Linked DNA regions of Homo sapiens. The protein of the gene in region 3 binds, or shares a complex with, the protein of the main gene of each other region. Each region holds a gene or a part of one and is shown on either strand. Other genes may lie near its edges.

The links.
Region 1: SART1 (region 3) and PRPF3 share a complex: the UniProt entries of both Homo sapiens proteins name them as parts of the U4/U6-U5 tri-snRNP complex.
Region 2: SART1 (region 3) and SNRPB share a complex: the UniProt entries of both Homo sapiens proteins name them as parts of the U4/U6-U5 tri-snRNP complex.
Region 4: SART1 (region 3) and USP39 share a complex: the UniProt entries of both Homo sapiens proteins name them as parts of the U4/U6-U5 tri-snRNP complex.

Annotation. Positions count from the first base shown.
Region 1 is NC_000001.11:150,331,531-150,338,551, reverse strand, and holds part of PRPF3 (U4/U6 small nuclear ribonucleoprotein Prp3), read right to left. Parts: intron 5,869-7,021; coding exon 5,785-5,868; intron 5,574-5,784; coding exon 5,353-5,573; intron 3,618-5,352; coding exon 3,311-3,617; intron 393-3,310; coding exon 226-392; intron 1-225. UniProt on the Homo sapiens protein: Plays a role in pre-mRNA splicing as component of the U4/U6-U5 tri-snRNP complex that is involved in spliceosome assembly, and as component of the precatalytic spliceosome (spliceosome B complex).
Region 2 is NC_000020.11:2,461,121-2,467,789, forward strand, and holds the end of SNRPB (small nuclear ribonucleoprotein-associated proteins B and B'), read right to left. Parts: intron 6,639-6,669; coding exon 6,487-6,638; intron 4,700-6,486; coding exon 4,588-4,699; intron 2,780-4,587; coding exon 2,627-2,779; intron 2,108-2,626; coding exon 1,969-2,107; intron 1,928-1,968; exon of another isoform or gene 1,832-1,927; intron 1,642-1,831; coding exon 1,516-1,641; intron 820-1,515; coding exon 809-819; 3' UTR 674-808; coding exon of another isoform or gene 636-673; 3' UTR 522-635; downstream 1-521. UniProt on the Homo sapiens protein: Plays a role in pre-mRNA splicing as a core component of the spliceosomal U1, U2, U4 and U5 small nuclear ribonucleoproteins (snRNPs), the building blocks of the spliceosome.
Region 3 is NC_000011.10:65,957,242-65,964,754, forward strand, and holds the start of SART1 (U4/U6.U5 tri-snRNP-associated protein 1), read left to right. Parts: upstream 1-4,492; 5' UTR 4,493-4,539; coding exon 4,540-4,852; intron 4,853-6,832; coding exon 6,833-6,890; intron 6,891-7,273; coding exon 7,274-7,329; intron 7,330-7,513. Other genes in the region: TSGA10IP (testis-specific protein 10-interacting protein), read left to right, coding at 1,642-1,741, 1,910-2,073, 2,576-2,699. UniProt on the Homo sapiens protein: Plays a role in mRNA splicing as a component of the U4/U6-U5 tri-snRNP, one of the building blocks of the spliceosome. May also bind to DNA.
Region 4 is NC_000002.12:85,611,317-85,619,205, forward strand, and holds the start of USP39 (ubiquitin carboxyl-terminal hydrolase 39), read left to right. Parts: upstream 1-4,869; 5' UTR 4,870-4,879; coding exon 4,880-5,147; intron 5,148-7,889. Other genes in the region: UPF0561 protein C2orf68, read right to left, coding at 352-470, 562-668.

The DNA.
Region 1 (7,021 bases), on a different chromosome or scaffold from region 3:
TCCAGCCTGGGTGACAGAGCGAGACTCCCTCTCAAAAAAAAAAAAAAAAAAAATAACAGGACCTTGTGTACAGTTACTTATCTCTCTTGGATTTAAAAATTTTAATTAATGAATGAGTACCATCCTTCCCACTAAAACCATAGCTTTACTAAAAGGTATTAACTTGAGTCTTAAACTCAGCTGATTAAAAACTGTTTTTTTAAAAAGGTACTAAAACAAACTCACAGATCAAAGCCATTGGGGATTATGTAAGAGTCCCACCACTCAATTTCAGGAATATCTCCTTCCTTTAGCTCCTTCTTAGGAGCAATGAGGGCAAGCCTAGTCGAAGTATGGATGCCTGTTTTTCGAGCTGCTTGTGAAATCTCTGCCTGTAGCTTCTCCAGTTGAGCCTAAAAACAAGATAATCCAAGACAGAAAGATAAATTGGAGTCATAGAAAACAGAATGTGTAGAATCTCAATTTTTTTTTTTTTTTGAGACGGAGTTTCGTTCTTCTTGCCCAGGCTGGAGTGCAATGGCATGGTCTTGGCTAACAGCAACCTCTACCTTCCAGGTTTAAGCGATTCTCCTGCCTAAGCCTCCTCAGTAGCTGGGATTACAGGCATGTGCCACCACCCTCAGCTAATTTTGTATTTTTAGTAGAGATGGGGTTTCTCCACGTTGCTCAGCCTGGTCTCAAACTCCCGACCTCAGGTGATCTGCCCGCCTCGGCCTCCCAAAGTGATGGGATTACAGGCATGAGCCACTGTGCCCGGCCAGAATCCCAAATATTTTTTTTTTTTTTTGTAGACGGAGTCTCACTCTGTCACCCAGGCTGCAGTGCAGTGCAGTGTAAGCTCCACCTCCCGGGTTCACGCCATTCTCCTGACTCAGCCTCCCGAGTAGCTGGGACTACAGGCGCCCATCACCACGCCCGGCTCATTTTTTTGTATTTTTAGTAGAGAAGTGGTTTCACCATGTTAGCCAGGATGGTCTCGATCTCCTGACCTAGTGATTCGCCCACCTCGGCCAAGAATCCCAAATTTTAAAACACTTCCCCGTTGAACTCTTTACACCTAACGCAACAAGTTCATAATTTCTGAAAGCTTAGAAAGGAGTTGTTCTGCTTTATTTTATCCTTTATTTAGTTCATATACATAGATCTCACCTTCAACCCCTCCCTGCACTCCACAGTATATGCCTGCAGTAAATACGCAGAAATAGAATTTTATGGCCGGGTGTGGTGGCTCACGCCTGTAATCCCAGCACTTTGAGAGGCCGAGGCGGGAGGATCATGAGGTCAGGAGATCGAGACCATCCTGGCTAACACGGTGAAACCCCGTCTCTACTAAAAATACAAAAAAATTAGCCGGGCGTGGTGGCGGGCGCCTATAGTCCCAGCTACTCAGCAGGCTGAGGCAGGAGAATGGCATGAACCTGGAAGGCGGAGCTTTCAGTGAGCTGAGATCGTGCCACTGCACTGCAGCCTGGGTGACAGAGCGAGACTCCGTCTCAAAAAAAAAAAAAAAAGGAATTTTATGAAAACCTCACTTTGAGAGGATAAAAAGGCGGCAAAGGTCATTCAATATACAATCAATTCAACTCTCCAGGTGTACTGTCTCATTAAATTTTAACTACAGGCAAGCCTTCCTTAGTCACTCAGAATGTTTCAAATTGTTTCCCTCCACTTAGTTGTATGTGGAGAATTTTCAAACTCAATTTCATAATATTTCCACTTATGTAGAAACGAATTAGGAAGTAAAATCTGCTAAAAAAATTATGTATTATATTAATAAATATATATATATATTTTTTGAGACGGAGTTTCGCTCTTTTGCCCATGCTGGAGTGCAGTGGTGCGATCTCAGCTCACTGCAACCTCTGCCTTCCAGTTTCAAGTGATTCTCCTGACTCAGCCTCCCAAGTAGCTAGGATTACAGGCACCCACCACCACGCTCGGTTAATTTTTGTACTTTTAGTAGAGACGGGGTTTCACCATGTTGGGCAGGCTGGTCTTGAACTCCTGACCTCGTGATCCACCCACCTCGGCCTCCCAAAGCGCTGGGATTACAGGCTTGAGCCATCTTGTCCAGCACATTTTTCAAAGTATTCATTGCTTTAAATCAGGGGTCCCCAACCCAACAGTCTTTTAGGAACTGGGCTGCACAACAGGAGGTGAGCAGCAGGCAAGCCAACAGTCTCATCTGTACTTACGATTGCTCCCTATTACCTGCATTATGGCCTGAGCTCCACCTCCTGTCAGATCATCGGTGGCATGAGATTCTCAGAGGAGCGCGAACCCTATTGTGAACTGTACATGTGAGGGGGCTATGTTGCACATTCCTTATGAGAATCTAATGCCTGATGATCTGTCACTGTCTCCCATCACACCCAAATGGGACCATTTCAGCAGGAAAACAAGCTCAAGGCTCCCAGTGATTTTATATTATGGTGAGTTATATAATTATTTCATCATATATTACAATAAAATAATAATAGAAATAGGCCAGCACAGTGGCTCACGCCTATAATCCCAGCACTTTGGGAGGTCAAGGCAGGCAGATCACAAGGTCAGGAGTTTAAGACCAGCCGGGCCAACATAGTGAAACCCTGTCTCTACTAAAAATACAAAAAATTCGTCAGGCATGGCGGCGCATGCCTGCAGTCCCAGCTACTCAGGAGGCTGAGGCAGGAGAATTGCTTGAACCCAGGAGGCAGAGGTTGCAGTGAGCTGAGACTGTACCACTGCACTCCAGCCCAGGTAACAGTGCAAGACTCCATCCCCCTCCCCGCCCAAAAAAAAAAAAGGCGGGGGCGGTGGCTCACGCCTGTAATCCCAGCACTTTGGGAGGACAAAGTGGGCAGATCACCTGAGGTCAGGAGTTCGAGACCAGCCTGACCAACACGGAGAAACCCCGTCTCCACCAAAAATACAAAATTAGCCAGGCGTGGTGGCACATGCCTGTGATCCCAGCTACTCGGGAGGCTGAGGCAGGAGAATCACTTGAACCTGGGAGGCAAAGGTTGCAGCAAGCCGAGATCGCCCCATTGCACTCCAGCCTGGGCAACAAGAGCGACACTCCATCTCGAAAAAAATAATAATAATAAAGTACACAATAAATGCTATGTGCTTGAACCATCACGAAACCATCCTTACTCCAGGGGAAAAATTATCTTCCATGAAACAAGTCCCTGGTGCCAAAAAGGTTGAGGACTGCTGCTTTAAATGACCTATTTATCTAATTTCCTAGAACACAGAGATTTAACAATGTTTTCTTGTCAGCTTCTTAACTTTTTCCAAATTCTGTGTTATACTCTAAGCCAGATACCTTTGTCCGTAATCGCTGAGCAATCTTCTCAAATTTGCCCTTGTCATGGAATTTAAAAGTGCGTCTCTGGCGCTGGGAAGGGGCAATGGAGACTCGGGGGTCAAAAAAGGTATTGGATTCCATGTCTTCTGATGGCTTTTCCTTTAGTTGTTGCTTGAATTGTTCCCTCTTCACAGCACGAATATTGGCTTTCAGAGTAGGCATGCGGTGTGTCAGCTCAATCTCCTTGCCTGTTGCATCTACAGTGCGCCCTTGCTCATCCAGGATCAGTGGTGTAGGTTTCGTTTGGTCTTTTAACTCCACCTTCCTGAAAAATAGCCCGCAAAGAAATAAATCCTGTATGGAACATTAAGGCAAGCAAAAAACAAAATAAAGCCAGGCGTGGTGGCTCAAGCCTGGAACCACAGCATTTTGGGAGGCCAAGGCAGAGGGATCACTTGAGCCCAGGAGTTAAAGACCAGTCTGGCCAACACAAGGAGACTGCATCTCAACAAAAAATTTAAAATTAGCTGGGTGCGGTGGCATATACCTGTGGTCCCACCTACTCAGGAGGTTGAGGAGGATCACTTGAGCCCAGGAAGTTGAGGCTGCAGTGCCTTCTCTATAAGAGTTATTTGGATGGACGGGTGTGGTGGCTCACACTGTAATCCCAGCACTTTGGGAGGCTGAGGCGGGTGGATGGCTTGAGCCCAGGAGTTCAAGACCAGCCTTGGCAACACAGTGAAACCCCATCTCTACAAAAAATACAAAATTTAGACGGGCACTTGTAGTCCCAGCTACTGAACCTGGGAGGCAGAGGTTGCAGGGAGCCGAGATCACTGCACTCCAGCCTGGGTGACAGAGTGAGACTCCCTCTCAACAACAACAACAACAAAAAGGACAATAAAATAATTCTAGGGAACAATCTCATCAGTGAGCAATACCATCTTTTTTTTTGAGACATGGTCTCACTCTGCTGCCCAGGCTAAAGTACAGTGGCACAATCACAGCTCATTGCAACCTCAACCTCCCAGGCCCAAAGAAATTCTCCCACCTCAGCCTCCTAAGTAGCTGGAACTACACGCATGCTCTACCATGCCTGGCTAATTTTTGTATATTTTAGAGAGATGGGGTTTTGCCATGTTGCCTAGGCTGGTCTTGAACTCCTGAGCTCAAGCAATCTGCCAGTCTCGGCCTCCCAAAGTGCTGGGATTACAGGTGTGAGCCACCGCGCCCTGCCAATAGTATCTTGATTAAAAATATCAAAGTGGATATTTCAGTATACAGGACAACCAAATGAAATGAGTTTATAAATTATATGAATTTATAATCCTATCTTTCCTTATCCCTGAATTCTTATGTCACTCATGGGATGCCAGACCAACTGTAGATGCTAAAAAAAATGTAACATCTTTGACCAGTTGCAGAGGAACCTCAGATCTAGTCTCACACAATGTGGTTTAATGGATAAATCTGAGTTTGAAACCAGGAAGGAAACCTGGCTATACTCCTAGCTCCAACATTAGATGAATAACCTTAATCTCAGTTATATAAATCATAAGAAGATAATAAACCCTCCAACAGGGAAGACGAGAAAAAATTCAACTGGTTAATCAATCACACCTAAGAAATATGAAACTGTGAGAAATGATCTAGGTTCTGTGGAAAAAGAGGATCAGTAATATTTTGTTTGTTGTTTTCTTTGAGCCGGAGTCTCCCTCTGTCACCCACGCAGTGGCACGATCTCAGCTCACTGCAACCTCTGCCTCCTGTGTTCAAGCGATTCTCCTGCCTCAGCCTCCCGAGTAGCTGGGATTACAGGCATGCACCACCACGCCTGGCTAATTTTTGTATTTTTAGTAGAGATGGGTTTTCACCATATTGGCCAGGCTGGTCTCGAACTCCTGACTCCTGACCTCAGGTGATCCACCTACCTCAGCCTCCCAAAGTGCTACGATTACAGGCCTGAGGCACTGCGCCCAGCCAGATCAGTAACATTCAAAGGTATTTATTGCTTCTCAAACTTCAGAAATGAAAAGGTATTCCATGAAATAGACACTCACGGGGGAGCAATGCCCATGGCATGGAGATTAGCCAGGCCCACCATGTTGGCATTGCCGATGAGTCCTGGCTTCAGTGCCAGCTGGGCTTGGATTCGAGCTTGCAGTTCAGCTGCTTTCCTTGCCTTCTCAATGGCATCATTCATGAAAGTGGCAGCCTGGGAGGGCTGAATAGTGTTGCCAATAGGAAGTCGTTCTGGTTGGGAGGAAGAAGGAGTCTTTGGCTGTGAGATAGAGAAAAAGAAATCAGAGGAATTAAGACAGGCAGACAAACACACATACATACACACAGATATACACACACATCATGGTAGACTGTAGCAGATGATTATGAAGTGAAACATGTAGTCACCTCTTCTAGTCTCTCATTTTGAGTGGATGGCAAGAAATTCTGTGCCAAAGATTATTCTGTTCAGAGTAATCTAGACACAATACCTGAGGTGTAGGGGGGCTAATGAAGCTCAGCTGTTTTTTCCTCTCCTCGATTTGTCGTGTTGCTGCCTCCATCATCTGTTTGATCTGCTCTCCAGGAAAAAAATTGAAAAACTGTTAATTTCTCCTTCTTACTTCTCCCATTCAGGTTTTTAAACCCACAAGGCTCTCAGGTCTAGACACTTAAAATGTTTTGAATGACTATACCACATTCTGCCTGCACCACAGTGCAAAAAATTTAGTCAAGATAAGTGAGCACTGGAATTTTTCAACCCATGTTCCTAAAGCAAGATTAGCATATTAGGTAGTAATATAGTGTGATGATTGAGACTCTGGAGTCAGAGAAACCTGAGTTTGAATCTTAACTCTGCCACTTAATGCCTTTGTTATCTTGGATAAGGAACTTAGTCTCTAAACCTCCTAAGTGTCTAGAAGGGGGAAGAAAACAGTACCTACCTTACAGGTCTAGTGTTAACCACTTAAATAATGCATGCAAACCTAACAGAACCTACACAAAATATTATACTTAATTTTCTTTTTTTTTTTTGAGATGGAGTCTCGCTCTGTCACTCAGGCTGGAGTGCAGTGGTGCGATCTTGGCTCACTGCAAGCTCTGCCTCCCGGGTTCATGCCATTCTCCTGCCTCAGCATCCCGAGTAGCTGGGACTATAGGCGCCCACCACCACGCCCGGCTAATTTTTTGTATTTTTAGTAGAGATGGGGTTTCACCCTGTTAGCCAGGATGGTCTCGATCTCCTGACCTCGTGATCCGCCCACCTCGGCCTCTCAAAGTGCTGGGATTACAGGTGTGAGCCACCGCACCCAGCCTATACTTAATTTTTTTTAAAAAATCATGATATTAGTACTTGAACTACTAGTTTGGGAAACAAGAGACGATGGTGCAAAGACCTGCTCCCTAGTCTCTATAAACCCCTTCTGTCCTAAAGAAGTTCAGAATGATAAGCTTTGAGGGTATGGCCAAACAACTCCTCTTACATTTTGCAAAACAGACCTGTTCTTAAACTGCTTCAAGATATTTTTAAACATTTGTCTTTAACATTTTTTCTTGAATAGGTGATATATTCAAAATTCAAAAATTACGGAAGGGTCAGGCATGGTGGCTCACGCCTGTAATCCCAGCACTTTGAGAGGCTGAGGTGGGCGAATCACTTGAGGTCAGGAGCTGAAGACCAGCCTGGCTAACATGGTGAAACACCGTCTCTAGTAAAAATACAAAAAT
Region 2 (6,669 bases), on a different chromosome or scaffold from region 3:
CATTTACAATTATCTTCCCCCTACACAGTAACTTTACAACAGTGTTCACCTTATTTTTGTACCCTTAGAGCTTGATGCACTAAGTACTAGAGTGCTGCTCAGTGAACACAGGCTTTGGGTGGAAGAACTCATGAAGATACCACAATTCAAAAGTTACGTTAGGTTATATGTTACGTGTGTGACCCTGGCAGAAAGTTATGCCAAAATTGTTCCTCTCCCAGCAGAATTTTCATTTTTAGCATTTGCTTCATGGAGAAGCTATCTAGACAAGTGCCTTCCCAAGAGGATATTATGGGTACTGATTTCAACAAAACTGATCTTTGAATCTGATAAGTGAAAATGTTCAATTTTGTAAGTATCTTAGTGTATGAGGATGTACAGATGCAAATGGGTAGTAAAACATTTTATAGGGAAGAAGGTAAGATCAGGGTTAATTTTTTCCAAGGCAACCCTTCTTGACTCTATTAAGCACCCAATATATCAAAGATTTTTCTAAAAATAAAGATCCATAGGTGCAATTATAATGTTCTCTTAAGAGTTTATTATAAACCAGTTTCATAGGCCACAAGGAGATAAAAGGACTATGTACAGCCTTACGGGAAACAGGCAGGGAGCTGAGGAGGGCCAAGATGAGTCTAGGGCCTTGGTGGGCGCATTCCCGGGGGAGGGGGCCCTGTAAGGGAAACCAGACAATCCCATGAGACTCCACGAACAACAGCATAAGAAACAAACAGGTCTGTGGTAACGTGGCCCTGAGGAATCGAGCCCACGCCTCTGCGGAGCTACTTCCATACTCTGTGGCCAAGGGTCAAAGAAGGCCTGAAGTAAGAGTAAGAAGTTTAGTCAGTGCCTGATCTGCAACTTGAATCCCCAACCCTGCCCCAGCCTCCCACGCCCTGCAGTAATCGAGTGAGGAGAGGGGTATACATGGCATATGTGCTAACTAGGGACTACTCTGAGGCTGACTGGGTTCCTATGTCTATAAAAACCCATAGAGGAATAATCCAGACTAGAGAAACAGGGGTCACCAAGTTTGCCCATGGGTTATCTTATAGGGAAAGAACACTGGGCTTGGAGTCCAAACTCCCTGGGGGCCTATTTTCTCATCCATGTGGGGACTGATCTCAGAATTTCTCCAACTGAAGTTAAAGAGAAATCCATAATAGTACAGCAAAGCCCAGAGCCCCCTCTTAATTACTAGGCACTGTCAAACCAAAGAGCATAAGACAATCTCATAACTTCTGTTAGGGATCCTCAGAATGCATTATTTCATTGTGTCCTGAGGCCGCTGCCTTAGATATTGAGAAACACCCTGGGTGCATGGCTGCTCTAACTTTTCTAAGAGGGGAGGTAAGCCCAATTTAAGAAATGTTCCCTCTTCTCTTTCCTTTCTGGATTTCCCTAGATTTAAGGCTTGAAAGCCCATGGGATATGATCTAAATGCAATCTTCCCTCCATTTCCTATCCCACTAGGCTCTAGGGAAAGAAGCCAAAGTCACCACTGCAGGCACTTACCTCGCATCCCAGGGGGAGGAGGCCGCATTCCCGGAGGGGGCATGCCCATTGGAGTCCCTCTTCCAGGGGGGATCCCCATTGGGGGACCCATAGGAGGTCTCATACCAGGAGGTGGGCCCATCATGCCTGCAAGAGAAAAGCCCCAAGAATATAGCTCAAGTGTCTATCTTGAAAAGGTAGCAAAAAAACTACAAAGCTTTCCACCAAGTTCTGAGATAGATGGACCATTCCACCCTCTCAGCAGCTCCCAGAAAACTGACATTTGAGCCTAACACCCAGGGCTCCCAATGGCTCTTGTCCACCTAGTCTCATCAGTCAGCCACGCTGGATCTCAGAGTAATCCTGCTTAATTATACAAACTCATCATCAGCTTCAGTCAAGGTTATATCTCATCATTAATCCAGCTAAGGCATCTTCTATCAATTAGCACTGGTCTCCTTATGGGCTCCTCACCTGGAGGGGGTGCTCCTCGGCCCATAGGTGGGGGAGGACCCCCACGGCCAGGTGGGTACTGGGTTGGAGCCCCGGCAATACTGGCTGTGGCAGCAGCTGCAGCGGCTGCAACAGTACCTCTTCCTTGTGGGGTCATCACCTAAGAGGACATAAGAAGAAAGAGTTAGAAGAGTACAGTACAATGCAGCTTCCCACTCTCCTCCCCAACTTGGGGAAGGACAGTGGGAAATAACAGACACCAAATCCCTTAATGCTACAACTCTCAGCACCAGACTTCCCATCCAAAACCACATGTCGGGAAAGATCAAGCTTGAATGCCCAACTCCCATCTTCTAGACCTGAATGTAAGCATGTCCAATCCAAGTGAGAGAAGGCAACTGCATTTTCAAATATGACTCATGATTTCAAATGCTGTCATGGAAATATTTTCCTTAAATACAGTTGGCTAATTCGTACATCTCTTTAATAGCATCAACATAATTTACAATGGCAACTTATCCTTTTCACTTGCTTCTAGGGCCATGTATAAACCACAGTGAAACACTGATAGTCTGACAATCACAGGTTGGTCACTCTGGACCCTTTTAAAACTATGGACCCTCCCCTTTATCCTTTATTTTAGCCACCAGGAGGTGGTACCCTTTCCCCAACTCCTCACCTGTTGGGATGGCCCGCCAACCCCACGGACTGGCCCAGCAAGTCCTGCAGGAGCCTGGGGCATGGGAACCCCAGCTGGGATTCCTCTGCCAGCAGCCCTGCCGATCCCTGGGCCCCCGGCAGCTCCAGCAAGTGGAACTCGAGCAATACCAGTCTGAAAAATAAACAAATATGCTCTGATGCCCAGTGATCTGAAGATCAGAAGTATACTTTGGAATATCATTGCCAAGAGAGCCCCTCGAAATAGCTTATAAATACTATCGAAATAGCTTATAAATACTACCTCTCCATGTGTGCCAACACCATTCTTCCTCCATCCAAGACTATGAGTTATCCCTGAAGCAGGGTAGAACTTAAGAGTAAGTCTAGAGAAACATGCCACAACTCAACCACCTATATGCACTCCTGTGAAAGTTAAACCAAGAGCAAAGGGCCAGGGTTCCACTCAGGGTTCAGCAGGCAAGGCATTAAAGGGACATGAGATCCATTCCCAGCTGATTCTAATCCGCTAGGTGACAATGGACAAATAATCCCACAATCCCGGGCTGAGTTGCCTTATCTGCAAATGACATGGTTATGGTACAACTGGTTGTGATCACAAAGGTTTATGATGGGTTATGTTAGACCAGCCAATTCTACTGGAAGTAGGTACTAAGAGATTTGAATATGTACATGGACTTTGAACCAAGATATGCTAACATCCCTTGCAGACATTTTTAACTGGAAAAGGCAAAAACGTAAAAATCTCCAAAAAAGAAAATGATTAGGATAAACTACTCTGTACTCATTTGAGAAAATCTCAGTCATTAACTTGACTTTAAAAGTGTTGAGCAACTAGAAAAATGTTAACATTAAGTGAAAACACAGAACAACATAATATATGCCCACTATGTGTTAAGTACAAAAAAATCCAGATAATATATGTGGATTTTTAAAAAGTTAAAAGGATTATTCTCTTTTGATTAAAATAACGTCTTGGCAGGGCGTGGTGGCTCACATCTGTAATCCCCGCTACTCGGGAGGCTGAGGCAGGAGAATCACTTGAACCCGGGAGGCAGAGGTTGCAATAAGCCAAGATCGTGCCACTGCACTCCAGCCTGGCGACAGAGCGAGACTCCATCTAAAAATCTAAAAAAAAAAAAAAAAAAAACCCTTCAAATGAAAAAGGGAAAGGGAAAACAAATTTGACTAGGTCTCTAAAGCCTGCTCTATTTCTATGTGTAGCTTGGTGTTTACAGAATCAAGACTGTCTGAGATCAAATGTCAGTTTCACCACTTAGTGGCTGTGGCACCTTGGGCAAGTTACTAAGCCCTGGTTTATTCTATTTATAAGATGAGAATTTATCTCTAAAGAGACCTAAAGGATCAAATAAAATACTGAAGTGGTTGGCGCAAGGTAGATTCTCAGTAACTATGAACTGTAACTGTACAAAACAAAATACACACATTTCCTATTGTTTCGGAGTTACAACTTTTTAAGGTCTACCTAGGCTTTGTCGTCACATTAAGAACTGACCCAGATGGCTTCAGGTGCTTCCTCCACTGACTCACTATGTACATCAACTGAGAAACAGGTAGAGCTTTAAAGTCTGAGATACCCAAATTCTAGTTCCCCTTTTCCACTTCTTTCTTGCAGGGTAACCTCTTTTTTTTTTTTTTGTCTTTTTTTTTTTCTTCCTTTTTCTGGAGAATGGGGTCTCGCTATATTGCCCAGGCAGGTCTCGAACTCCTGGGCTCAAGCTATCCTCCCGCCTCTTGCCTCCCTGAGAGCTGGGATTACAGATGTGAGCCACCGCGCCCGGCCTCTTGCAGGGTAACCTCTTTAAGATTTCATTTATTATCTGAAAAAGGGGGCAAAATCCAGAGGATGCCTGTGAGAACTGCAATGAAACAGAATCTAACACAGAGCCTGGCTCACAGTAGGGCCTCCCCTCCTCCACAAGGCTTCCTGCTCTGACTTACATCTTTGGGAGGAGGTCCCTCTACTGTCATTGAGACCAGATTCTCCCCTCGCAGCAGCACCAGACCGAGGACTCGCTTCTCTTCCCTTTCTGCTTGTTTGGAGTTCTTTGGCCTAAAGAGAGGTTTAGAAGGAACAAAAAAAGTGTTAGAGGTGGGTAAAGTTCACCTGCCTAGTGGCCTCCAAGATTTGCTTATACTGCATCTCCTAACAAACAGTACACAAACTTTCCCAAGATAGCCCTCCTGGATAGTCTCTACAGGCTGAACACATAACCTCTTAGGTGGCTATCTACCTGTTTCCTACCATGCCAAGAGGACACACTGACCAAGAGATAGGACAAGGTCAACAAAGCCCAGCCCGGGCCCAAATGCTATTCCACAGCAACCGTGAAGGCCCTTCCCTCAGCCAAGTCTTCTTTCTTAGGACCCTATTCCCTCCCTTCAGCTTAAGGTCTTGCCAACATCAGGAGGCTGCCTAAACAATTCCAATCAAATGACTCCCACCCACCTCACTTACGTGCAGTGTCCTTCTAATATCAATTCAACCTCACAGGCCTATAATTCTGCCCCTCATCTTACATCAGAAATAGGAGAAGCCATAGAAGGAAAAGGTTAAGAGAAATTTCACATACACAGAAATTGAAATTTCATATCTGTTCCTCAAAAGCATAAAAACAGAAACCCCCAAAAAGCAACAACCAGAAAAAGATGAACAAAATATAAATGTGAAGTAGGAAAAATAACTGCAACAGGATAGGAAAGTGGGGAAAAAAGCTAAAGCTAGATCCTAAAAATAAAGGGGAAAAAATAGCCTGATTTAAAAAAAGAACTCAAAAGATTTTGTTTTGATATTTTACAGTATATTAACTGGTTGTCTGTGGATGGACAGTTTTTCCCTTTTTTGGCTCACATTTTCTTATTTTTTAAAATAATAACCATGTATTGTCCTTTCATAATTAGAAAAAAACCCTTCGGGGTATTTTAGTTTCTATTCATAGACTTCTTTGTATTTTCAAAAATATTTTCCAATAAACATTTTTTATAATCAGGAGGGAACTTTGGAGTAGCTCCACGCTCATCTGTTGGCCCCTCTCTAATACGTACCTGGCACCAAGGCATCCCTACCACATTTTTAAACTATACTTCTTGACCTTGGGTCACAGAAGAAATCAGCCCCAAGGAGAATCAAAGGGAATTCAAAGTGAGTGACAGAATAATATGGACACTGCATATGACAAAAGAGCTGCTGGCCACGGAAGTCACATCATCTTTTTGTGCCTCAAGTAGCCTTGAATGTAAAACATGATGGGAAGCTAAATCATATCTTTTAATGGGCCAAAAGCTTAAGATCTGTGAGACTCAAGGCAAGGGAGTTAGCCAATAACTTACGGAATTGTAGCAAAGTAGACAATATCTCCAATTGTTTGTATAAATGCCAACAAAAATCACTGGCCCCAAACCCACATGGGGAGCTGAGCACTTACCCTGAAGAGGGTCAGAGGCTTCTTAAAGCAGTTTCAGACCAGGCTGCATTGGGAGAGCCCTTTAGGCTACAGCTTTACAAATAGGCAATGAGGCCAGAAACTCAAGCTCTCCCCCCTCACACACCTGTGGGGAGAACATGAGAGCCCTTTACCCCAGTACCCAGGGGCACGCAAAGTGAGAGAAACAAAAAGCCTAGCAGCCCTTCACAACTTGTACTTTGCTAGACTAGAGAGCAAGGTTTGCTGGACTCAAAAAGATTTCTTAGCGTTCAATGTCCCCATTTAAGTCTGCCCTCTAAAACTGGAGAATAAACAGAGAAGAACCAACTAGCTACATCACCACCTCTATTGCTTGGCCCACCCACTCAATCCATTCCCATCCTCCAGTCTCCGCCCCCCACAGTCCACTCCTCACTTGATCTTTCTGAACTCATCACAGTCACAGAGGATCAAATTCATGTGCTTGTCAAAAGCCTTGAAGGTGCCAATGAAGATCCGGCCGTCCTGCAGGATGCACCTCATCCTGTAATCAATATGCTGCAGCATCTTGCTGCTCTTGCCCACCGTCTGCAAGGAGAAATGGACAGGGATGAGACTC
Region 3 (7,513 bases):
CCCAGTTCAGACGATTCTCCTGCCTCAGCCTCCCAAGTAGCTGGGATTACAGGCGCACGCCACCACTCCCAGCTAACTTTTGTATTTTTAGTAGAGACAGGGTTTCACCATGTTGGCCAGGATGGTCTCGATCTCCTGACCTCGAGATCTGCCCGCCTCGGCCAGCTCCTGTCACTTCTAACAGAAATAGCATAAAGTATCCAGCAGGAAAAGTGCACACAATATCACAGAAAAGATAGGGACTGCCAGCTCATTTCCCACCTCCCCTTGTAACTGCCATAAATTCCTTCCTAAATGGTGAAAGCCGTTTTTGCAGTAACTTGTGTTCCGGGCCATGGGTTTTCAAGTCCATGTCTTTTTCTCAATGAAGGATGGTTCCTTCCCTGGCACAGGGCCACAGCAAGGGTGGCATGGCCCAGCAAGGCTGAGTTTTTCCACCGGGCCCAGCACAATCGCTGAGGTCCCAGTACAGGTCTTGGGGTCTTGTCTGTGTCTCCCCTCCCCTCCTGTCCTCTTGTCTGCGTCTTCCCTCCCCTCCTGTCCATGGGTGCTGCCTCCACACCTCAAGGCCTCTCTTACATGCTTCACAGATGGATGCCTGGTCCCATGTGGGTGTGGCTCGAAGGTCCCTCTTGCTGCTAGAGTGCTCTCTTCATGAGTGGCAGTGATACTCAAGTTTGTCAAACAGACACATTTCTGACAAGTGCACAAACTGGGTTTTGGGTTTTTTGAGACAGGGTCTTGCTCTGTTGCCCAGGCTGGAGTGCAGTGGCACAATCTCAGCTCACTGTAGCCTAGACCTCCGAGGCTCAAGCGATCCTCCCACCTTGGCCTCCCAACTACCCAGGACTACAGGTGCATACCACCATGTCTGGCTAATTTTTGTAGAGACAGGATTTCACCATGTTGCCCAGTCTGGTCTCAAACTCTTGGGCTCAAGTGATCCACCCTCCTTGGCCTTCCAAAGTGCTGGGATTACAGGTGCGAGCCACCACGCCTGGCCAAATTGGGTTTTTATAAATGAAAATTGTGCTTCCCCAGTGGAACCCTGATCTCTCAGGGGTGTGTTTTTTAAATTTGAAACATATTTTTTTTTAGTTTCTCTGTCCCATTTTCCAAGCTGTCTGCTTACAAGAACCACAGAGAATGCTGGCAAGCTTGTCCGATCCCTACTATAGCACAGTGAAATAAACTGAGCCCAGAGCCAAGAGCCCAGAGAGAGGCCTCACCCAAAGTCACACAACCAACAACCACAGCTCCCCCTCAAGGGAAAGAGGATGGGGAGGGGAAGCTATGTAAGCACGTGTCTGGAAGCTCAGAAGCCAGCACTGGCCCCTTTCCCATGGGGCTGGCACAGGAGGATGGGCAAGCCCCAGCTGCACAGGGCTCGGCCCCTCACTTCCCAGCTGCACAACTTTGAACAAGTCCCTCAACCCTCCCGATCCATCCGTAAATTGGGTGAATAATTTCCACCTTGGCTGACTTCACAAGGAATCCAGGCAAGAATGGGAATGAAATAGCTTTGTAAAGGTGAGGGTGAGGACATGAATATCAAGTCCTTAGTGAAGATAAGCGGGCTCAGGAATGGAGATCAACAGTTGTGTCCATGGTTAGCTGCACAAAGGCCTGTCTCCCCTGCAGGCGCCAGGAGCGACAGCGCTTTGCTGAGTACCAGGCGGAGCTGCAAGGCATCCAGCACAGGGTGCAGGCCCGGCCCTTCCTGTTCCAGCAGGCTATGCAGGTGAGGCTGGCACCTGGGCAAGCACATAGCTGCCCCCTGTGAAGAGCTGGCTGAGTGGGTAGGGAAGCAGGATGCGAGTAGGTCCCTGCAGATAGGATCCCAGGGCTGCTGCCCTCTGGAATCCCTGGGACCCCCTCAGTAACCCGATCCCCACCTTGCCCTCGGCAGCCCTGGTGCAGAGCAGGAAGCCGTCTTCTCTCTCCTCAGGCCAATGCCCGGCTCACCGTCACTCGGCGCTTCTCCCAGGTGCTGTCAGCACTGGGGCTGGATGAGGAGCAGCTGCTGTCTGAGGCAGGAAAGGTGGACAGAGAGGGCACCCCCAGGAAACCCAGGTGAGTCTCCCCGTCAGGTCAAGAACTGACTCTGCCATGCTGCTGCGGGAAGGGGCGCCCACACCAGCACTCTGGGCTCTGGAGGGCCTCCCCCAGGACAGGCAGAGAGCCCAGAGGAAGGCAAGGCCAGGGTTGTCATTCCTACTTCTCAATGAGGAAACTAAGGACCTGAGGGGAAGGGCCTTCTTTAAGGACGCAGGAGCGAACAAGCAGCAGAACCAGTCTGGGACTCTGCAACCATCTGAGCGGCCACACACCAAGTCCCTCATTAGGGGCTGGCACCACCACGCTGGTCACCCCATGCCTTAGAATAACCTGGTACAGAGCAGCGATTATGAAGCCCACTTGACAATAAGGAAAGTGAGACTCGAGAAGAGTCACTTTGCCCAGGATCACACAGCAAGCCGGCACTGAAGCAGGGTTTGAAGCCACATTGTCAGTGGTTTCCTTGGGCATGGGGGTGGGAGCTGCAGAGTCAGGGGCCTCTATCTGTGTCTTGAAGGAGCCACAGGTCAATGGGGGTGAGAATGGAGCACTCTCCTCAGAGGCCCCCAAGGACAGAACCCACCGGCAGCCAGCCTGACAGGCACTACAACCCCAGCCTGGACCCGGAGTGCAGTCCCTGAGATAAAATTAAAGGCTTTATGGCAAACACAGTATGAGATTTCTGGTGGTGGGGGTGGTGGAAGCTACGGGTTGGAAGTTGGAGGTGGCAGGTGGGTGGGCAGCAGGCTTAGCTCTGTCCCCGCACCCCCTCCCCACCAGGAGCTTTGGCTCTTTTGGTTCCCCCCACCCAGTACACACAGCCCCTTCTCTGCTCCTGAGGAGTGGGGACATCTCAAAGAGCAAGAGCTGTGACTTCTCCACCCCATCTCCAATGTATATGTTGGGTCCTATAAATTCAAGCATGAATAAGATGAAATGACTCCTGCCTCTGAGGACGCCCAGTGAGTGGGAGAGGGGGTGGATCCTTAAAGGGGCGCATACAACATAGCCTAACACATGCTGAGTTGTGCCACACAGGGAGCCACAGACTGAGCAACCACTGGGTGAGGGGAGGGGTTTCAGGAGAGATTGGGATTGTGTGCACTGCGCTTTTTTTTTTTTTTTTTAAGACAGAGTCTCGCTCTGTCACCAGGCCGGAGTGCAATGGTGTGATCTCAACTCACTGCAACCTCTGCCTCCCAGGTTCAAGCGATTCTCCTGCCTCAGCCTCCTGAGTAGCTGGGACTACAGGTGTGCGCCACCACACCCAGCTAATTTTTGTATTTTTAGTAGAGACGGGGTTTTACCATGTAGGCCAGGATGGTCTCGATCTCTTGACCTCGTGATTCGCCTGCCTTGGCCTCCCAAAGTGCTGGGATTACAGGCGTGAGCCACCGCGCCCGGCCTGCACTGGGGTTTTAAGTCCCAATAGTTTTAAGTTAGGGCTGGTCTCCTCAAGAAAAAAACTCATACACACAGATGTGCCACATTTTGCATTCAATTTCAGGGGTTCCAGGGATACACTGACGCCCATGTGGAGCTCCTAAACAATCTTAACAGTTCACGGGGCCAGGTTTTAAAAATCCAATCCAGGGCCAGGCGCAGTGGCGCATGCCTGTAATCTCAGCACTTTGGGAGGCCAAGGCGGGTGTATAGCCTGAGCTCAGGAGTTCGAGACCAGCCTGGCCAACATAGTGACCCCACCCCCTACCCCCGCTCCCCACCAACCATCTACAAAAAAATACAAAAATTAAAGGGGCGTGGTAGCGTACTCTCGTAGTCCCAGCTACTGGGAAGGCTGAGGTGGGAGGATCACTTGAGCCCAGGAGGTCGAGGCTGCAGTGCGCTGTGATCACGCCACTGCACTCCAGCCTGAGCAACAGAGTGAGATCCTATCTCAAGGGAAAAAACAAAACAAAACAAAACAGGGAACGTGGGAAGGAAGCGTTCCCTGACGATACTGGTTATAGCGGGTCTGAAGCTGGGCTGTGGAATTGGAGATCTCGGGAAAACAACACCCGTTGGAGCCACGACCCTAGGAGTCCACTAAGCGAGCGCCCATTGTAGGAGGGAGGTGTCTACGGAAAGACCGTGAGGTAGTGAACACCCCGTTGCCGGTGAAGTGCAAGCGCAGGGAGGCCGGGGAGGAACTTAAAGCCACGAAGACACTGACTTAATGGGCTCTAAGTCCTTCCAGTTCTGGGATCCCACCTCCGGGTTAATTCCGCTTCCCTTGAGGAGCGCATGCGCAATGGGACCACTCGCTCAAAGAACCCACCCGACCCGAGACGGCGCGAATGTGCAGTCGAGCGCTGATCCCGGCCTTCCCATGAGCCTCTGGGGCAGGCTCCAAGGCGAGCGACGGAAGCAGCCGCTCTTAGTTTCCGGCAACACGACAGCGGCTGCCGAGCGACCCGGAAGTATTCCCATTTTGCGTTGTCTGGGCTCGGCGGCAGCCGGGCTCGGAGTGGACGTGCCACTATGGGGTCGTCCAAGAAGCATCGCGGAGAGAAGGAGGCGGCCGGGACGACGGCGGCGGCCGGCACCGGGGGTGCCACCGAGCAGCCGCCGCGGCACCGGGAACACAAAAAACACAAGCACCGGAGTGGCGGCAGTGGCGGTAGCGGTGGCGAACGACGGAAGCGGAGCCGGGAACGTGGGGGCGAGCGCGGGAGCGGGCGGCGCGGGGCCGAAGCTGAGGCCCGGAGCAGCACGCACGGGCGGGAGCGCAGCCAGGCAGAGCCCTCCGAGCGGCGCGTGAAGCGGGAGAAGCGCGATGACGGCTACGAGGCCGGTGAGGAGGCGGGGCCTGCGCAGGGGGCGGGTCGGGCGGGGGTCCCGGAACGCGTGGGTCTGGGTGTGCGCGCAGTGTCAGCGAAGCTCTTCAGGCCAGGAAACCCCCAAGCTGTTTACCAGCTCTATTAAATAGTCTTTCTACGGGATCCCTTGAGCCCAGGAGTTAGAGGCTGCAGTGAGCTGCGGTCCCGCCAGTGTACTCCAGCCTGGGCAACAAAGCGAGACTCTGTCTCAAAAAGAAAAAAGTCTTTCTACGGTTGTTTAGGATTAGAGGTTGACTTTCTCCACTCAGCTGCTTGAGGACAGAGGGCTTCTGTTTTCCTCAGTTGTCTGGTACAATCAGATTCTCAATAAATATGTTGAATGAGTGAATGAAGTAGTGTCAGCATATACAGAGGCAAGAAAAACCTGGTATTGGACGAATCGTGTAGGGCGCATGGTAGAGAAATGAGGGAGTAAGATAGACAGGGATGTGAACACAAAGGACCCTGTACTGTAGTCTCTGTTAAGAACTGTAGATTGTCTTGAGGATAGTAGGGAGCCATGGATGTGAGTTGAGGAGTGAGTTGCTCAGATCCGTATTTTGTAAACATCACTGGATTGAGAATTTAGTCAAAGGTAGTCAGGACTGGAGACCAGGAAACCAGGAGGGCTATAGGCCAGGGGAGGGCTGATGGTGGCCTGCACCAAGGCAGCAGCAGTGGGATTGAGAGAAGTGGACAGGTTGGAGAGGTGTTTTGGAGGAGGAATGAACAGAACTCAGCACTTGTATGAGGGTGGGAAGAAGGAATGGAGGATGACTCCTTGAATTTTGGCTTGAGCAGCCAGATAGGTAGTGGGTGTCATTTCTACTGAAATTGAGGAGTAGGGAAGAGAAGCAGATTTGGAGCGGGGGTGGGGGGAGATAGTTCACTTTTGGGGTTGTCAAGGTTGATGGTAATGGGGAAATCCAGAGTTTGGACTGGATAAAGCCATTGGGAGTCAGTATCTGGGTGGCCAGTGAAGCCCCTGAAAGACTGTGACATGAGAAGAGGGGGTCAGGACTAGAACCTGAGAAATGCCCTTATGTTAGTAGTAGGCAGAGAAAGATGTTACCAAAAAAAGGAGACAGAGTAACCAAAAAGGCAGGAAAACCTTTGTGTCATGGGAACTTTGGGAAGAGAGTATTGTTAGAAGGAGGGAGCGATCAGCAGTCCCACATACCACAGGAGATCAAGCAAAACCAGAACCGAAAAGAACCCACTAGATTTAGAAACGAGGAGGCTGGTGACCTTGGGGAGCCTGGAGAGGTTGGGATCCATGGCCCAGGTGGAGAGAGAAGCCTTTAAGATAAAGGAGAAGGTAGGATGCAGGATGGGAATGCAGGAAAGGAAGAGTTTTTTTTTTGTTTTGTTTTGTTTTTTTGAGACAAAGTCTTGCTCCATTGCCCAGGCTAGAGTGCAGTGGCACGATCTCAGCTCACTGCAAGCTCTGCCTCCTGGGTTCAAGCAATTCTCCTACCTCAGCCTCCCGAGTATCTGGGATTACAGGTGCGCACCACCGTGCCTGGCTAATTTTTATATTTTTAGTAGAGACGGGGTTTCACCATCTTGGCCAGGCTGGTCTTGAACTTCTGACCTCGTGATCCATCTGCCTCGGCCTCCCAAAGTGCTGGGATTACAGGCATGACCCACCATACCCGGCCCAGACCTTGTCTGTTAAAAATGAAAGAAAAAAGTAGAGGGCAGAGTGGTGACTACAGCAGTTTGGATGTCTTGGGTCAGGAAAGGAAGGTGCACAGAAGAGGCAGGGCTCTGAGACTGGACTCGGGCAGAGGAGCTGCTGGGGAGCTTGGGTGGAAGAAGCTGCTGTTTTCTGGTGTTTCAGCAGGCCCAGGTGCTGGTGAGGGGCCCTCATTTTTGTTCCTGCAGCTGGAGCCAACGATGCTGGCTTCTTGGCCCTGTGTTCAGCTCCTGAGCCATGCTTCTTCTTGTTCCAGCTGCCAGCTCCAAAACTAGCTCAGGCGATGCCTCCTCACTCAGCATCGAGGAGACTAAGTGAGTACTGTCTCCCTTGTTTCTACTTTGTTTTTCTAAGAGAGGTGGCTCTGGGGCCAGCACGGGGGAGGCTTTCTCACATGAAAGTGTGCTAATCAGAGTTGGAAAGATTGTTTAAATCATCTTAGCCAACAGTTGACTTATAGAAGAGAAAACTAAAACCTAAGAGTAAAGTGGCATTCACTGGTTAGACGCAGACCAGGCTGGTGCCCATGTTTCCTGCTTTGGAGGCCAGGGCCCTTCCCAGTGTCCTAGGCTGCCTGGGGCAGACTTTGTGTTTGGGACCACTCACTCCCACCCTGTTTCTCCTCTTGTCTGTCTGGAAATGCACATGGCACCCTGTGTCTTTAATAGCCCCTAACACTTGTATCTCTTGTTGTCAGCAAACTCCGGGCAAAGTTGGGGCTGAAACCCTTGGAGGTTAATGCCATCAAGAAGGGTGAGTATGGGGCTGAGGATAGGGTTTGGGGGAAAGAGGCCATCTGAAGGGGTCTTTGAAGAAGGTGGGGTTAGAGGGCAGGTTCAGCACTGTTTAGTGGTCTTACACATGCATATTTGCCGGAAGGCATGAGGTCCCTCCTTGCTGGTATAATGGGGATCTGGGGCTCCGCCTGCTCTCTGAG
Region 4 (7,889 bases), on a different chromosome or scaffold from region 3:
CTGGGTTCATTCCGCAATTATGTGCTGGTCGCTCATCGCTGTGCCAGACTTTCTCTTTGCTAGGTAGCGGAGCACCTTACTAAAATACAGCACGGTGGGGCAAACCGGCAGATAAACTTCTTGCTGGCTCCCCGATACTCTGACAGCGATGCTTAACTGGGGGCTTATGAGTCGTCCCAGTTCTTGGTGAGAATCATTCAGCGGAGATTTGGGAGCGCTGAGGTGGAGGTTCCGGAAAGAGACGAGATGAGCTGAACCTTAGGAGTAAGAAGTGGTTTTTCCCTATAGAGAAGGGGAGTGCGTTGCAGGAAGAGCGCGCGGGCTGGAGGCAGGCGGGGCGGGCGGCCTCACCTCGGTGTCGCGGCAGGTACACCTGCAGGTCTGGCTTGCGGGGCCGCGTCGGCGCGGGCGTGTGCCGCCTCCTCACCTTCTCCTTGGCCGCCTGCTTCACCTTCTTGTCATAGTCGTCCCTGCGGGGAGCCGAGCGGGAGTCAGGGACTGTCGGGCCGGGCCAGGCCAGGCCAGGAGTGGTGGCGGCGGCGGCGCAGGGCGGGGCGGTACCGAGCGATCTGGTTCCGTCGGATATGGTGCACGAAGCCGTGGTTCATGTCCAGCCGCCCCCCAGGCTTGCAGCAGTGCCCCGGCCGGGGATGCGGCCCCGCCTCCATCAGGAGCCGGGGACGCAGAGTCGCCGCCGCCTCGACGGCCCCAACAACAGCCACCCGCCCACAGAGCTCCGCGCCGCCCCTTGCTCAGCTTCCGGCCCCGCATCCTGACTTCCGGTCTGGGAGGCCCCGGCCTGGCCAAGCGATGCAGCGCACGGAGTTTTCGGGTCTGGTCGGGTCGGGTGGAGTAGGGTATGCTTGACTTCCACCCCCCGGACGGAGGGCTTTTGTTTTTGTTTTTTTTTGTTTGTTTTTTCGTAACATATCAATAGGAAACAAGGACTTCGGCTTACAGCTGATACCAGAACCTTCAGAAAAATGCAAATCATCTATAACACAACTCGATGCTTACGGCGGTGCCTTCCCATCTTTTTTCTGGTAATAGGATGCTGTGCAATCCATCGCCATCTGCGTGACTTTGGCTGACTGTGTAACGCTGCCACTTCTCAGTTTCCTCATTAGTAAATGGGAACACCTAGAGCACCTACCTCAAATGGATTGTGAGGCCTTGAAGTGCTCAGGCAGGGCAACAGCGGCGCCCAGGCCGCAGGCGCCGCGAAGGCTCTCCTGGCCCGGCTTGCCTCCTGCTCACGGCGCCGATGGCTTAACTGTCCCCGCGGGAGGACCCAGGGTTTTTGAGGGACCTACGGGTGTATTATTTTCTTTTTTATTTATTTTTCCTTTTTTTTTTCTTTTTGAGAAGGAGTCTCACTCTGTCGCTCAGGCTGGAGTGCATTGGCGTGATTTCGGCTCACTGCAACCTCCGCCTCCCGGGTTCAAGCGATTCTCCTGCCTCAGCCTCCCGAGTAGCTGGGACTACATGCGCGTGCCACCACGCCCGGCTAAGTTTTGTATTTTTGGTAGAGATAAGGTTTCACCACGTTGGCCAGGCTGGTCTCGAACTCCTGACCTCAGGTGATCCGCCTGCCTCGGCCTCCCAAAGTGTTGGGATTGCAGGCATGAGCCACCGTGCCCGGCCCCTTTTTTTTTTTTTTCTATTTTTTCTGACCACTGGGTTCACGTCACAGCGTGTAAAATTCTCAAGTCCTTTTACAAAAGTCAAAATCAGGAATTCATGATTAGGACAGGGACAAACGGCTGGATGCAGTGGCTCATGTCTGTAATTCCAAAACTTTGGGATGCCGAAGTGGGAGTATCGCTGGAGGGAGGAATTTGAGACCAGCCTGGGCAACACAGCGAGACATCGTCTCTACAAGAAAAAAATACATTAAAAAAGAAAGAAAGAGCCGGGCGTGGTGGCTCACGCCTGTAATCCCAGCACTTTGGGAGGCCCAGGCGGGCAGATCAAGAGGTCAGGAGTTCGAGACTAGCCTGGCCAAAATGGTGAAACCCCGTCTCTACTAAAAAAAAATACAAAAAATTAGCTGGGCTTGATGGCCGGTGCTTGTAATCCCAGCTACTTGGGAGGCTGAGGCAGGAGAATCGCTTGAACCCGGGAGGCGGAGGTTGCAGTCAGCCGAGATCGAGCCACTGCAGTCCAACCTCCAAATCAAAAAACAAAAAACAAAAACAAAAAACAGGGACCAATGGTGGTCCAGCCACACGATGGAATATTACTGAGCAATCCAAAGGAAGATCTGTAGCTCAACAACATGGATGGATCATAAAATAAATATGCCCAGTGAAAGAGGCCAGGGACTCTGTATGATTCCATTTATATGAGACTCTAGGAAGTGCAAACTAATCTATAGTGACCGAGAGATCAGTTGATTTTTGTGGGGGTTCTCTGGGAGGAAGAGGATATCTTTGGGGCTGGGTAGATTCTTTAAATTTTTTTTTATTTTTTTATTTTTTTGAGGCAGGATCTCACTGTCGCATAGGTTGGATTGTAGTGGTGCAATCACTGCTCACTGCAGCCTCCACCTCTCAGGCCCAAACGATCCTCCTGCCTCAGCCTCCTGAATAGCATGCCACCATGCCCAGCTAATTTTAAAATTTTTTTGTGGAGATGGGGGGGGTCTCTCTATGTTGCCAAGGCTAGTCTTGAACTCCTGACCTCAAGTGATCCTCCTGCCTCAGGCCTCCCAAAGTGCTGGGATTATAAGTGTGAGCCACCGTACTGGGCCCAGATCCCGTCTCTTGATTGTGGTGATGGCTTCATGGGTGTATATGTTACAGGAAAGGGATCCCTATTCAGACCCCAGCAGAGGGTTCTTGGATCTTGTGCAAGAAAGAATTCAGGGTGAGTCCACAGTGCAAAGTAAAAGCAAGTTTATTAAGAAAGTAAAGTAGCCAGGTGTCGCGGCTTATGCCTGTAATCCCTGCACTTTGGAAGGGGAGGCGGGCGGATCACTTGAGGTCAGCACTTCCATACCAGCCTGGCCAACATGGTGAAACTCTGTGCCTACTAAAAATACAAAAATTAGCCGGGCATGGTGGCAGGTGCATGTAATCCCAGCTACTCAGGAGTCTGAGGCAGGATAATCACTTGAACCCAGGAGGCAGAAGTTGCAGTGAGCCGAGATCTCACCAATGCACTCCAACCTGGGTGACAGAGCAAGACTCTGTATCAAAAAAATAAAATGTAAAGTAGTGAAAGTACAGCTACTCCATTGACAGAATAGGGCGTTCCTGAAAGTAAAAGGAGGAACGCATCCACCATGGCTACAATGCTTGTTTATATATAGGATAAAAAGATCATGGGGAGATGTGCTCTGCTACAAGGGTTTGTGATAAAGGATTAATTTTATTATTATATTTTGCAAGAAGAAATATTATCTTTAAAGCAAAATTAGGAATGCCTTTATTCTCCAGATATTGGGATATTAGGACACTCCCAAGTCTGGATCTGTTTAGTAAACATTATCTCTCTGTTCCCTTAACTGTAGACATCTCTAGGCTAGGAATACCTAACTTCCTGGGAATGCAGCCTGTCAAGGCCCAGCCTCATTTTCCTAACCCTCACTCAAGATGGAGTTGGTCTGGTTGAAACGCCTCTGACATATACCGCAAGTCAGAATTCAGTAAATTGCACACAGTGTGGTGTGGTGTGGTGTGGTGTGGTGTGGTGTGGTGTGGTGTGGTGTGGTGTGGGTATGACAGAGTTTCACTCTGGTTGCCCAGGCTGGAGTGCAATGGGGCGATCTCGGCTCATTGCAACCTCCGCCTCCCGGGTTCAAGCGATTCTCCTGCCTCAGCCTCCTAAGTAGCTGGGTTAACAGGCTCGTGCCACCACGCCCGGCTAATTTTTGTATTTTTAGTAGAGATGGGGTTTCACCATATTGGCCAGGCTGGTCTCCAGTCCTGACCTCAGGTGATCCGCCCGCCTTGGCCTCCCAAAGTGCTGGTATTATAGGCATGAGCCACAGCGCCTGGCCTAAATTGCACACTTTAAACATGTAGTTTGTTGTATGTCAATTATACCTCAATGGAACGGTTCAAACAAGCAAACAAGTTCAAGGCAGGTCCTGAGGTTAGAGCTTTATTAGCTTCATGGTAAATCTGCCTTTACCGGGCATTTGCGTTTTCATGGTACCAAGAACCTTCTAAAAGTAGAATTAGGGCTGTCAAGGGGATGATTTGGGAATGTCGCCTAGTTTTCCTGTGCAGGATTGTCAGCCCCCAAGCCGCGGAGACTGTGGGAAACGACCTCACGGTGGTGGTTTCGAGGCACAAATCTGGGGCCGAATGACAGCTTCTTTGTTTTTGAGACGGAGTTTCGCTCGTTGCCCAGGCTGGAGTGCAATGGCGCGATCTCGGCTCACCGCAACCTCCGCCTCCTGGGTTCAAGCGATTCTCCTGCCTTAGCCTCCCGAGTAGCTGGGATTACAGGCATGCGCCACAATGCCGGGCTAATTTTGTATTTTTAGTAGAGACGGGGTTTCTCCATGTTGGTCAGGTTGGTCTCGAACTCCCGACCTCAGGTGATCCACCCGCCTCGGCCTCCCAAAGTGCTGGGATTACAGGCGTAAGCCACCGCGCCCGGCCTGACAGCTTTTATCCAGAAAACTGTCGCCAGTAAAGGTTCCCGTCTCAGTAAACTGTAAACGACAGTAGGCCCACAGAAGGTTCTAAGGGGAGAGGAAGCCAGTGCAGGAACAGCACCGCCCACAAATTTTCTGCAGCGTGATTTGTCCCCAGTGGCGACTCGTAGAGAGTTCGGGGCTCGCTACCAGCCCCTCTCCTGATTGGCCTTGTGCCGCGCGCTCGAGCGTGCTTGGCGCCTGCGCTGGACGACTCGGCCGGTAGTGGAGATGTCCGGCCGGTCTAAGCGGGAGTCTCGCGGTTCCACTCGCGGGAAGCGAGAGTCTGAGTCGCGGGGCAGCTCCGGTCGCGTCAAGCGGGAGCGAGATCGGGAGCGGGAGCCTGAGGCGGCGAGCTCCCGGGGCAGCCCTGTGCGCGTGAAGCGGGAGTTCGAGCCGGCGAGCGCGCGCGAGGCCCCGGCTTCTGTTGTCCCGTTTGTGCGGGTGAAGCGGGAGCGCGAGGTCGATGAGGACTCGGAGCCTGAGCGGGAGGTGCGAGGTGCGCGGGGCCGGGCCGGGCTAGGCGCGAGAGCCTGTTTTTTTCGCGTCCTTTTTTCTTGTCTCTAATCTTCCGCTAGGTCACTGCGCCGGAGTTGGGGGAGGGGTGGGGTTGGGGTGGAGAAGAGGAGGGATCCAGACTCGACGATTCTGCTGTTCGACTTGTTCTGATGAAGACAGTACCCTTCTCAATAATCGTATAGTATTTCTTTTTTCTTTTTTTTTTTTTTTTTGAGATGGAGTCTCATTCTGTCACCCAGGATGGAGTGCAGTGGCGCGATCTCGGCTCACTGCAACCTCTGCCTCCCCGGTTCAAACGATTCTCCTACCTCCGCCTCCCAGGTAGCTGGGATTACAGGCGCCCACCACCGCTCCCGCCACCACGCCCGGCTAATTTTTTGTGTTTTTAGTAGAGAAGGGGGTTTCATCGTGTTAGCCAGGATGGTCTCGATCTCCTGACTTCGTGATCCGCCCGCCTCGGCCTCCCAAAGTGCTGGGATTACAGGCGTGAACCACCGTGCCCGGCCAAACGTATGGTATTTCTAACTGCAAAAATCGTAACAACAGCAGCTTCCCTTTATCGAATGCCCGATGTGGGGGCTCAGTGCTGATTTTACAAGTGTTACTTCCTTCCATTTTAAAAAAGAATTTTTTTTTTTTTTTTTGCGTTTTAAGAGAAGCAAGTCTCGCTATGTTGCCTAGGCTGGTCTCGAACTCCTGGACTCAAGTGTTCCACTCACCTCGGCCTCCCAAAGTGCTGGGTTTACAGGCGTGAGCCACCGTGCACGGCTTTCCTTCAGTTTTTACATCTAAGGTCTTGTAATTTCTGTAATCAAGATATTCAGAATGCTTGAGCAATAGGCACCTCTACTAAAGTATGGATTATGTAGCACTTTTTAAGCTGAATAAAGTCTGGAGACAATTTTCCATTAGTCTCTTGAGTTTGTGCACGTACTGCGACCATTGCCTGACTGCCTTTTCTCCTGGACTCTCGTTAAGGATGTTCGTGTAGTGAGCAGCCTTGGAAGATAGAAATGGTGTCTCCCTACAAAACGAGGAGACAAGGGCACAATCCCTTATAAAAGATTTGGGGCAGGGTGTGGTGGCTCACACCTGTAATCGCAGCTACTCTATAGGATGAGGTAGAGTTCAAGACTAGGATAGGCAACAGAGCGAGACCTCGTTTGAAAAAATGGTTAATGGTTCAGATTCTCTAAGCACGGGGTTCGTCTCCTGTAAGGCAGCTCACTGTGTGCATGGGTTCTCCTCACTTTGCCTTGTGGGAATTCACTTGGAAAACTGACACCAATGCTATATTCCGGCTACTGTCATTGCTCTAATAAACTGTCCTTTATTTCAGGCCAGGTAGTCACATGCTTTCCATCAGCATTCATAAAACTGTGACAGGCTAACTTGTTAGCTTGCGAGTAGGGTAAGATCTGAGACCCACTCAAGTTTTTGACAAGTGGTAGATTTATAGATACACATGTACATTCTTTTTTTTTTTTTTGAGACAGTTTCACTCTTGTTGTCCAGGCTGGAGTGCAATGGCACGATCTCAGCTCACTGCAACCTCTGCCTCCCAGGTTCAAGCAATTCTCCTGTCTCAGCCTCCCAAGTAGGCTGGGATTACACGTGCATGCCACCATGCCCGGCTAATTTTTGTATTTTTTAGTAGAGATGGGGTTTTATTATATTGGTCAGGCTGGCCTTGAACTCCTGACCTCAGGTGAGCCGCCTGCCTCTGCCTCCCAGAGTGCTGGGATTACAGGCATGAGCCACTCACCCAGCCACTCTTTAAACTACGTAGTACATTTGTGGCCGGGCGCAGTGGCTCACGCCTGTAATCCCAGCACTTTGGGAGGCCAAGGAGGGTGGATCGCAAGGTCAGGAGTTCGAGACCAGCCTGGCCAACATGGTGAAACCCCGTCTCTTCTAAAAGTATGAAAATTAGCTGGGTGTGGTGGCTTGTGCCTGTAGTCCCAGCTACTCGGGAGGCTGAGGCAGGAGAATTGCTTGAATCCGGGAGGCGGAGGTTGCTGTGAGCTGAGATCGCGCCATTGCACTCCAGCCTGGGGGACAGAGCGAGACTCCGTCTCAAAAAAAAAAAAACAAAAAAAAAACGAAACACACAACTATATGGTACATTTGTATTACAATTAGTTTATTTTAGTGCTTGTGACATATTTCATATTTTTCATGCTTTATGGGATTTCTTTATGTAAAATGCAAACAAATCTTCTGTTGATTTTATGTATACCAAATATATTCTCCCAGTTTGTGGCTTGTTCTATTAGTGGGCTTTTTTCTTTTCTTTTTTTTTTGAGAGGGAGTTTTGCTCTTGTCGCCCAGGCTGGAGTGCAGCGGTACGATCTCTGCTCACTGCAACCGCCTTCTCCCAGGTTCAAGCAATTATCCTGCCTCAACTTCCTGAATAGCTGGGATTACAGGCACCCACCACCATGCCTGGCTAATTTTTGTGTTTTTTGTAGAGACGGGGTTTCACCATAGTTGGCCAGGCTGGTCTTGAACTCCTGACCTCAGGTGATCCACCCATCTCGGTTTCCCAAAGTGCTGGGATTATAGGCATGAGCTACCGCGCCCGGCTAGTGGACTTTTTTTTCGATATTGTTGCCACCCAAACAATAGGAACTCATCTTGATTAGTTTTTCCCATTTCTGTTTCTTTTTTTGTTCTGTTAGTTGGCCCTGAGTATAGGTTTCCCATTTTCAAAGCCTGTGAT